2 separate regions of the Homo sapiens genome follow, and region 2 is linked to region 1. Evidence: fine-mapped expression QTL. A gene starts in region 1. The other region holds a variant in brackets. All regions are shown on one strand. Distances are from middle to middle.

Region 1 (5,382 bases):
GCTGAGGCAGGAGGATCATTTGAGCCCAGGAGTTTGAGACTAGCCTGGGCAACATAGCCAGACCCCATCTCTACAAAAAATAAAAACCTTACCCAGGCATGGTGGTAGGTCTACAAAAGATAAAAAACTTTACCCAGGCATGGTGGTAGGTCTATAAAAAATAAAAACATTACCCAGGCATGGTAGTCCTACCTACTTGGAGGGGCTGAGGTGGGAAGATTGCTTGTGCCCAGGAGTTAAAGGCTGCAGTGAGTTAAGATTGTGCCACTGCACTCTAGCCTGGGTAACAAAGTAAGACCCTGTCTCAAGAAACAAAAAAATAGTGTATGTCAAAATTCTCACTCTCACTCTAACCTCGTCAACCTAGTTCTTCCACCCATCTTCACCCTCATAGCTAATAGCTACTTCTCCAAGTTTCTTACATAGCCTTCTAGCGTATTTTTATGCCAATGCAAGCAATACAAATATGTGTATCTGTCTCCTTGTTTCACAACAGTTGTCTTATTTTAATATTATCTTATTTTATCTATTCTGCACTTTGCTTTTTCACTTAATAAATCATGGAGCTGTTTTATCCAGACAATACATCCAATACAAGTAAATCCTATGCTCCTGGCATATCTCTACTGCTGGGGACTAGAAAATGCAGAGGAAAATAATGAGTGCTTGCACTGACTTTCAAAAATAAGGTTGCATAAAAATGCAATGTCAATAGCAAAATAAATGCCATATGGTTATGAACACATTTAAGAGACAAATATTGTAAAAGAAAAGCACCCATTTTCTCTATTGAGAAATTCATATTTATTTGCCATTCACCAAACATTTACTGAGGGTATGCATTGCCCTGGGCTTGCTGGGTGCTGTGGGGAGGACAAGCAGGGTAGATAGCTCAGAGCCTCCATCTGCCCAGGCCCACTATGTCAACAGCCTCCTTAGGACACCTCTTTCTGCAGCCTTAATCCCCACCCTAGCCAGCACCACACACACTTCAACTAAGGTGATCTTCCCTTCATTCCCACCCAGCCTTTCTCCTGCTTAAACTGCTTCACTGCCCTCCTCCCCACCACCTTCCCCATTCCCTTCCCATCCTAAGGGTCACATTGTCAAATTCCAACCCCTTCACTTGGATCGCAAGGCCTTTGGTGTGCAGTGCCTGCCCTGTAAACCTCACCACTCGCCTGCCTCACCTCTCCTTGCCTGCTGCTGCTAGGTTCCTGCTGTTCTGTCCTGCCTCCAGGCCTCTGTACCCTGCTCCTCTTGTCCTGGAAAGAGCAGTCTTCTCTACCCTTCACCGCCCCACTCATTTGTTCTTATACCTTTTTTTCAGGTATCTTTCCCCAATTACTTGCCCCTGCCCCCAGCCTGACAGGGTTAGAGACTCCTCCTGCCAACTGCAATTGCCTGGTTCCATTCCCTGCTTCCTCCTGGGGTGTGAGTTAGTGCAGCCCAGTCTAATGGGGGACATAGTCATCCTCTAATGCCTGGTTCCATTCCCTGCCTCCTCCTGGGTGGAGTTAGTGCAGCCGAGTCTAGTGGACGGGTCACTGGGCTTCCGAGTCCCAGTCTTGGCTCCTTCTCTAAGGCTGTTTTGTCATCTGTCACAGGCATGCCACGAGAACTTGCCAGCACAGTGGTGGTGATAATTAGAGTTCCCAATGCCCCTTAAGAATGCTCAGTAGACGGGAGCTGGCTTAACCCTCCCCAATCTTCCTCTCCCTCCTCCGTGGACAGAATCTCACACGTCTGTGAACCCCCACGTTCAGCATGAAGTGAGGAGCCCATCGGATGACGGGCCGGCTGGCTGGTTGAAGGCCACTGCTGACTTCGCATTGGAGGTATGGGTTGCTCAGCGCTTTTACCCTTTCTCAGGCATCTACTTGTTGCCTGGGCTTCTCTTCCAAGTTCAACAGTCCCCTCCCAGCCAGTTCTCCGCCGCGCCCCGCCCCCGGATATCTGCAGGGACCCTTTTCCTGCCCGAGGCCTGGGGTCTTGGCTCGAGAGGGGAGCCCCGCCGCGGGGACTGAGCATGCTCGCGCCGGTCAGTCTGGGAGGGCCGCACGCGGGGCCGCAGCCTGCGCCCTGGGCACCCGGGCGGCCGAGCGGGCGGGGTTTGGCCGCCGGGCGGCCCGCCCCGGGCTCCCATCAGGGCCTCGCGGCGGAGAGGGACCGAGGTGGGAGCGCGTGAGCCGCGCCGCCAGCCAGTCGCGCAGCGTCTACCCACGCGGTGCGCAGCGGCTGCGGAGCGGAGCCAGCGGGAGCAGCAGGGCGGGCTCTCCCGGCCGCGAGGGCGCGCGGCGCGGCGCGGAGGGTCTGGCCGCGTCCCGGCGGAGGAAGGAGAGGAGTGAGGGCGCCAGAGGTGAGCGCAGCCCGGGAGGCGCCAGCCCAGCGGCGCGGGCGCAGCCGGTCGGTCCTTGCTTTCTTGCGGCGCTGGCGGCTGCGTTCCCCCGACCGCGCTGACAGCCTCGCGTCCTGGCGCCTGCTCGCTGGGGCTGCCCGGAGGCCGCGGCCGGGCAGCTGTTGCACGGAGAGGGGGGCAGTTGCGGGGTTCCATAACCATAGCAACCGCATCAGCACCGGCGGCGGCGGGCGAGGGCAGCATCCGCTCGCTCCTCCTCCAGGCAGCCTCGCCGCGGGGACCCAACACCAGCTCGCAGGTGCTGCGGACTCCCCAGTCCGCCCGCCGCCGCCGCCGCCGCAACTGTTGGCGGCCAGAGACGGCGAAAGAGGAGAGAGAGGGACCCAGGAGCGCGGCCCCCGGGGGAGAGAGAGGGGAGCCCTGCAGTGGAGACAGGTAGGTGAGAGCGCTTCGGGGTCGGCAGCTGCAAAACTCTCTCGTCGGTGGTAGTGACGCTTCTGCAAGCGTGGTTGCCAGTTGGATGGCTTTCTGTCACGGAACAGCGATTCCGCCGCAAAATGTGGTTTATCTCCCTCGATTTTCCCCAGTCTCTCTGCCCTCCAGGTTTGCTGCACATCTGGACAGGTCTTGAGGGGATAAGAAGGGCCAGGGCTGTGAAAGGAGCGGAGAGGCTGGGTTAATGAGGGGTTCCCCCCAGGAGTCCCAGATGGAGGCTGAGGGGGCGCATGCAGACCTTGGCCATTGGGGTCCTTGGAGCCAGGGAACCCGGGGGCCAGGCTCAGGAGAAGACCGCACTGGGGTGGAGGGGACAGTGGCAGCGATTCCCTGTGATCCAGGCGAATGCACAGACCCGTTCTTCCTGTGGCTTGGCTGGGGACAGGGGTGTGCGGGGACACTGCAGCTCAGCTGTGACATGGAAAGGGACCAGCTCTTGATCTGTAGAGCCAGCTTCAAGCCCAGTCACTGGAGGGGATGTTTAGACGAGGCAAGTAGTAACTGTTATTATTTTGGGACACAGGAGTATCATGTTATTGCCGTTGACTATTAGGGATAGGATGGGAATAGAAATAAAATTTTGAGCTAGCAGTCAAGACTATGCCCTCCCCTTCTCCCCACCTCATTTCTAGCTCCCCACCCCACTTTGCCAGCAAAACAAGAATCACATCGCTCATAGTGACAATCCTTGCTCCTTGGCCACTGGCAAACTATCTCGCTTTCAGACAGCTGGAGACACCGCTTCAGTTGTCCATTTGAACCAGGGGGCATTGTTTTCCATCAGGTTATGATGCTCTTGATGTTAAGTGATGTGTCAAAGCCGAGAGGCACCTGGGCTGTCCATACAGTGTGATGGACTGTTAACTACATCTGCAGGCTGGAGAGAGGGCCAGAGCTTGGGGAGTGATTACAAACTCAGATCAGCTGGGACCAGGGCCCCGGAAGAAGGAAGATAGCATGTGAATAATTAGGGTCTGAAAGTTCGTGCATGTAGGTAAGTAGGCCTCTGAATAATATCCAGGATAGGCAGCCATTGACTTTGAAAGGGCTCTTCCTTTATATCGTGGCCTCGGGGGACAGTCTAAGTCCCAGTTAAAAGGCTATGTTCTTTAATTGGGCTTTTAATTTATGGTGTGGTTATGTTACCCAAGGGGATGTGATTTGGCCAACCTCTCATCTGGAGATTTATGTCATAATATGGATGATGTTATCAGAGCTTAGACAGATGGTTAGGTGTAGAGGAAAGTGGACCAGATTGGAGGGTCAGAAAACATGGATTTGAACTCTGATTTCCTCATGCACCTGCTGTGTGACCTTGAGTTGTTCCACCTCACTGAGGCTTCTTTCTCTCATCTGGAGAATGGGGATACTAACTAACAAGTCTTGCAGTTTACCAGGCTCAATCACAATCCAATGGGATGTGGAGAGGATGTTTGGGAAGGGCTTTTTAAAACCTGATGTCTTGTGCAAGTAAAAGGGATTATTGTTTTCTAAAGAATCTCTCTTCCTCAGATTGGCAAATCATTAAACATCCATCAACTACGAAAAGAGAGTGGAAATATTAGTCAGTGACTCACAGTGGAAACACTGTAGTCTGGTCCAAGATTCACTCAGGGCAACATAAAGAGGGCTTCTCAGGGGAAAATGCTGCATGCCATCCACCTTGCCTACAAGTGCTGAAGGTCAAGTGCTTTGCCATCAAATGCAGCACTCGTCTAGTTTGAAACAGTGAGGCCTGCTCACAATGGGTGGATTAAGTTTTTTTTTTTTTTTTACAGTATAAACAGAGATTTAGACAGAGTAGGGACTCATTTAACTGTTCACCTCGGGTTGTGGGTTTCTCGTGGGCAGGATTACTTTCATCCAACTCTGCTCTGTAATGTCAGGTGTTTACCAAATATTTGCTCAATTTGACTGAAATAGACTGAATGCTGACAGGTTGATTTTATTGCTGAAGGAATTATAATTTCTGGAAGGAACCAAGACTGTCTTATACTATTCTCTGCTCTTTTATGCCCCTGATTTTGCTCATGGTGGTGTCCCTGCCTAGAATAACAATTTCTCACTTCTTTCTTCCTTTAACAACCCAACTCAAATGCCCCTTCCTATAGGAAGCTTTCCCATATTCTCTCATGTGCTCCCACAACACTCTGGACCTCCTTTGTGATGGACTGTGCTGTGTCATCGCTTGCACACATACCTGTCCTTTCTGTTGATTTGATGCTTCCCAATGATAGGTGCCTCTCCCTATCTGACTTTGGTTGTGGCTGCAGCACCTGGTGCAGCCATGGCCATGATGAATGGTTGTTGAATGAGTGAATGAGCCTTACTTCTAACATGACCACCTGTGCAGACGTAGGCTGCAGAAAGGCCATTCCTGGCTGCTTTTGCCATCTCGGTCTGTGTGGCAAGCCTGGAGGATGCTCCATGGCTTGTTGTGCATTATTTAGGGTCAACCCACTGAGGCAAAGTGAAGGAGAACAGAAGCACATATTTTGCTTTAAAATGCTCATTTTTTTTCAAGTGGG
Region 2 (5,382 bases), 62 kb after region 1:
TTGGAGGAGGTCAGAGCACAGGGTGCCTTAAAAACAAGCCACAGCATTTGGACTTTATTCTCCTTATTTATGCCATCCTGTTTATCAGTATTGATCTGCAGCACTCCAAGGTCCAAGGGACAAAGGCAAGGAAATCTCCAACCTCTCAGAATATGAGAAGATACTATAGTAAATATGTCAATAAATTTTATTCTACAACAGCTCTATGTGGCAGGTTCTCATCTCCATTGTACAGAACAAGAAATTAAGACTCAGAAATCTTAAAGGATTTGCTGAAGGTTGCATGGCCCTTATAAAATGTTACCAGCTCATTTAACTTCAAGACCTCTTCCTGCTATGCTCACACTGTTTGGAAAGTCACATTCTAATCAGACTTGATGGCTAAATCAGTCAGAATCAAATATGCCCACCTATGTTGACATGCTGTGTAAAGATTTTCTGTTCAACGTGAACACATGGTTGCAAACTGATGCCTTAGAGTCTTTGATTGTGGGAGGAGGTCCCTGGGAACACAGACTAGCCTGTCATTGCAGTTCACAGAAGGCTGGACTCAGGACCTGGTGTTCACTGGCAAAACAAGCAGACACTTTGATTCCTGCTGCCCAGTGTGAATGAATACATTTCTACAAATATTTCTGTAGAGTGAGCCACCTTTCCACATCATATGATTGTCACCCTCTCATATCACAGTGCCGCTATGCATTGCATAAAAAAAAATGCTCAGGGGTATTTTCCAGATAAATGGAAGAAGTAACCATATAAGTGTGATTTTTTTCAGCAATTTATATCCATTGATCTTACCGAGTTCTTCCCAGAGAACATCTCTTGCAGATCCGGGTTCTCTCATCGTTTTAGCATTTGCTTAGCCGCTTGTTTGCCCTTCCCAATGCCCAGTTATCACATGTAAGATAAGCATTAAATTGCATATTCCCTGTATTTCACAGTGAGTAAAAGTGAAGGATCTGGTCTCCACCTCTCCACCTCTTTTACGACACTGTTATCATAACATGAGACCCAATGGAGCACATAGGCTGTCACAGATAGTATAGTCTGAAGGTCAGGAAGGGCAGGATGGTAGAAAGCTGAAATAGCCCTGATCAAAAAGACAAGGAGAACAAGGTGGTTTTGAAATATCTGCTAAATCCAGATCCCCAGTCTTGAATCATGATTGGAATTGCTTACTTCAGTTCTATTGATAAATCAGATTTGAAGTCTCCCCTCCTTTGCTTAAGTCACCCCTTAAACAAAGGGGTGATAGGATAAAATCTGCAATTTAGAAAGACAATTTTGAGAGCAGACCAGAGGGCAAGTTGTGACCTTCAAATATGTGTTTTGATTCATTTGTATGTGTTTTTTTTAGAAATATTTATTGTAGACCTAAATTTTAGAGAATATTGAGGCCTGATGAGATAATATAATTGAAAATACAAAAACTGTTCTAAAACTATACATAACTACTTATAGATATTGCTATTGTATTTGATAAATAATAAAAGTAATATTATTGCATTCTAATAAGTAATGTAATTCAATACACTAGTAGTCTTATTGCATTTAAATACAGCAAGGCTACTGCATCATAAAGCAGTACACCTGTGGACATGTCAACATTCAGAACTTCAGCTTTCTCATCAGTAACCTGAGGATAACACTCCAAGCTTCACCATTGGTTAGGGGCATCAATGAGATGAGGTGCATTGAGGCATCATCATGGAGTTTGGCATGTGGCTTCTTTTTTTTTCTTTTTCTTTTTATTTTTTTGAGATGGAGTCTTACTCTGTCACCCAGGCTGTAGTGCAATGGAGCTATCTTGGCTCACTGCAACCTCTGCCTCCCGGGTTCAAGTAATTCTCTGCCTCAGCCTCCCAAATAGCTGGGATTACAGGCGCCTGCCACGACGTCTGGCTAATTTTTTGTATTTTTAGTAGAGATGAGGTTTCACCATCTTGGCCATAAACTCCTGACCTCGTGATCCACCCGCCTCGGCCTCCCAAAGTGCTGGGATTACAGGCGCGAGCCACCGCGCCTGGCTGGCGTGTGGCTTCAGCCACACTTGCAAGATTGAAAATATGTACATTGTCTGATAGTGGAGCAGGTAATGTGCCAGAGGAAACTTGTATTCAGTAGCAGGAGGGTAGAACTGCTCAGGGAATTACATGATCATGTCCTGGAGCTGAGAGGTGTCCAATCTGACTGGTGTCACTGTTATTAGTGACACAATACTGGCATGTACCCCCACCTACTTGAACCGTGTGCTTCATGTCAACTGTAAGAGGCTGGTGGGATTGGTATCCCCATTTCATAGACAGTGAACATATTCAGAGGTAAGTAGCTTTCCACTGTTAATGCAGTGTCCTAAGATGACAGTAAACAACAAATGACAAGGCCGTCTTGGGAAGAGCTTTGAATGTCATCTCCAAAGAGAACTGTGACATGCAGTCAGTTGGCCTAATACCATATTTTTACACTGTAGCTAGGTAAGCTGGGGAAGGGTCATTGGAAGCATATAATTTGGTGTCTGACACTCTTTAATTGAAATCCTACCTTGTGATGCTTACTAGCTGTGTGACCCCAAGCCAATAAATTGCTTATATGAGCCTTAGGTTCCTCATCTATAAAATAATGGGAACACTTACACCCACCTTGACTTTGAAAAGTGGAGAGCAGTCATGGACAGAGCAAATGCTCAGTGTGTGTCACCTTGTCACCTTCTTGTAAGCTTTCCTGATTATTCTCACTCCCAAAGAATATGAAAGCTCAGAATTGAATAAATCAAAGAGATTCAGAAACAACATTAGATTCATATTTAGACAGCAATTGATTTTTTTCTTGGGTAAGAAAAATTATACATCTGCTTCTAAAATATGAAGAGTGGTGATTATGATTCATGCACACATGATTCATAGAGAAAGCTGGAGCTAAAACACAGCTAAACTAATAATATTTTGTCCTTGTGACTAAAGCTTGTCTAAGCTTAGAATGTGTGCCCAGAGTTAGAGCAAGAATCCCAAGGGCAAT[G/A]TCAATGCTGCTTTTATTTAGTAATAGTGGCATAAGCAGAAATGCTTGTTTTCCCAGAACCCATCTCCGTAAGGTGGATGCGTTTGTGTCTTCTGCAGCTGCTCCCTTCTCTTCATCCACTTGGTTTCTATGTATGGTTGATTTCTGATAATGATACTCAGAGCCAGACTTCACCCTCTCTGTCCTGGGCTATTGCCACGGGTTTTAACTAATGTCCCAACCTCTGATTTCTCTCCCTCTCCAGCAAACCCATTCTCTCTTCTTACTGGGTTGAGCTTCTTAAATCATTGGTCAGAAGTCAACTATGTGGCTAAGAAAACAAGTCATAAACTTGAACATCAAAGAGATTTGGGTAGAATCCTAGATTTATCATCTCACCATGTGAGCTTCAGCCACCTGATCTTCCTGAGCATGAATTTCATCAACTATGAAATAGAGATTACATTTATTTAATACTCTTTTAAAATTATTTTATTTATTTATTTATTTATTTATTTATTTATTTATTTATTTATTGAGACAGAATCTTGCTCTGTCATCCAGGCTGGGAGGGCAGTGGCATGATCTCTGCTCACTGCAACCTCTGCTGTCCGGGTTCAATTGATCCTCTTGCCTCAAGCCTCCTGAGTAGCTGGGACTACAGGCATGTACTACCACATCTGGCTAATTTTTGTTTTTTTAATAGAGACGGGGTTTCACCATGTTGGTCAGGCTGGTCTTGAACTCCTGACCTCAAGTGATCTGCCCTTCTCGGCCTCCCAAAGTGCTGGGATTTACAGGCATGAGCCACCGTGCCCGGCCTTAATAATCTTTTTAAATGAAGATTAAAGATATATATAAAATACCTTACACAGTTCCTGAAATATAACAAGTAATCAGTAAATCTTGTTTTCTTTTCAGTGACTCTTCATTGCTGGAAAAAGTCAGATCTAATTTTATTATGACTTTCTAGGCCTTCCACATGTGTCCTCTACCCTTTGCTATCTGTATACAGTGGACTGCTCTCCTGCCTCTTGCCTCATTGTTCTGTCTGACTTTGTATTTTCCCCGTCAGTCCTCTGGGAACAGATTTTGGATGGACAATGTTCCATTGTCATTCCTTCCTGTGTGCCTTTTGGTTGGGTACCTGGACTGTTTTACAAACATTAAGGTTTTCTGGGGCCCCGTCACCCCCCAACAAATTGAATCAAGCTGAGCCATGGATCTATACTACTGTGTCTAATTTGATGTATATTCATCAAGAATGTACTGTGTGTTCACTCTGTGTTAGATGTCATGGTACATGTGTATCGGAACCAGCTATGGTCATTGACCTTAAGGAGTTCCTATGCTAATAGAAGATGAAAGAGCAAAATATCTACCAGTTAGATTTTGCCCTCTTCTGTTAGTGATGATTAGATGGGAGGTACCTGATGCTACGGATGCTATCCCTATTTTAGGGATGTGGATAACCTGCTTAGGGCAAAATAACCTGTATAACTCTCTCTATATATCAAGCAGAAGGAGAAAAGTACCAAGATGGGTAAGATGACACACCTGGTTTGCAGGACATGGTCAAAGACTGCACAGAAGACCATGATATTAGAGACTGTTGTTTGGGAACAGGTGCAGTTTCAGCAGACAGCTTGGAGTAGTGGAGACCATGCAAGCTTTGGATCCAAAGTGTAGGAATTTGAATACCACTCTTGCTCCTTACCAGCAAGTCCCTCTATCTGGGAAGCTCTTTCACAGAACCTAAGGCCTGTTCATTCTTATCATTCAGGGCTACATTCAGGCATCATATCCTGTGAGATTCCTTCTCTGAACACGTTTTATAAAGGAACATTTTACCTTTATGCTGACTACAATCACTTTCATATCAGACACTGTTGGGGTCCAGTAGTCTCTCCTCTTTTGTGCCAACTTTGTTTATACATGTATCCCTCCTCAACACAATTTAGGGGAGAAGGAGCCTACACCCATCCCCAGGGATCGTTCTGATGGGTATTAGCCAGTTGTGCTGGTCTCCTTCCCTGCCCAGTGGCTGGTTTAGGGGAGGACACATGACACACTTCTGGCTGATGAAGTCTGGTATTGTTGGTTATCTTTGGGTGCCTCTGGGAATGATTTTGTTTTCCTCCCAAGAGAGGCATTCTTAGGAGTGGCCTTTCCTCTGGAGGATGCTCTCTTCTCTTCTTGACTCTCTGTCAATCTGAGTCTGGAGTATCTGTATTCCATCTTGCAAACCTAAAGGGACCCAGCCTTGCATGAAGCTGTAGCCTGAAGGCCACAGAATGGAAAGATGCGAGGATCCTGAGTCCCACGTGACAGCAGTGATTCAGGACATGATATTGTCTTCCTCAAAATCTTCATTTATGGGGGATA

Alleles and levels. Alleles are on the strand shown, and positions count from the first base shown. SD is a standard deviation of normalised expression in the study named.
For the expression in subcutaneous fat of the gene that starts at base 2,204 in region 1, G is the low allele of the variant in region 2 and A is the other (moderate effect, 0.48 SD a copy in GTEx).

What was found. PIP is the estimated chance that this variant, and not a neighbour inherited with it, causes the effect.
Region 2: its variant is fine-mapped to the expression of FAM135B in subcutaneous fat (GTEx, PIP 0.98).

Annotation. Positions count from the first base shown.
Region 1 is chr8:138,494,083-138,499,464 of GRCh38, reverse strand. It overlaps FAM135B (family with sequence similarity 135 member B), which reads left to right and starts at 2,204. Exons shown (of 20, transcript NM_015912.4): 1 at 2,204-2,794.
Region 2 is chr8:138,431,676-138,437,057 of GRCh38, reverse strand. All of the region lies in intron 1 of FAM135B (family with sequence similarity 135 member B), which reads left to right. Among named protein-coding and RNA genes, the nearest start is that of FAM135B, 63 kb to the left of the region's middle. The variant G/A (reference allele first, on the strand shown) is at 3,019.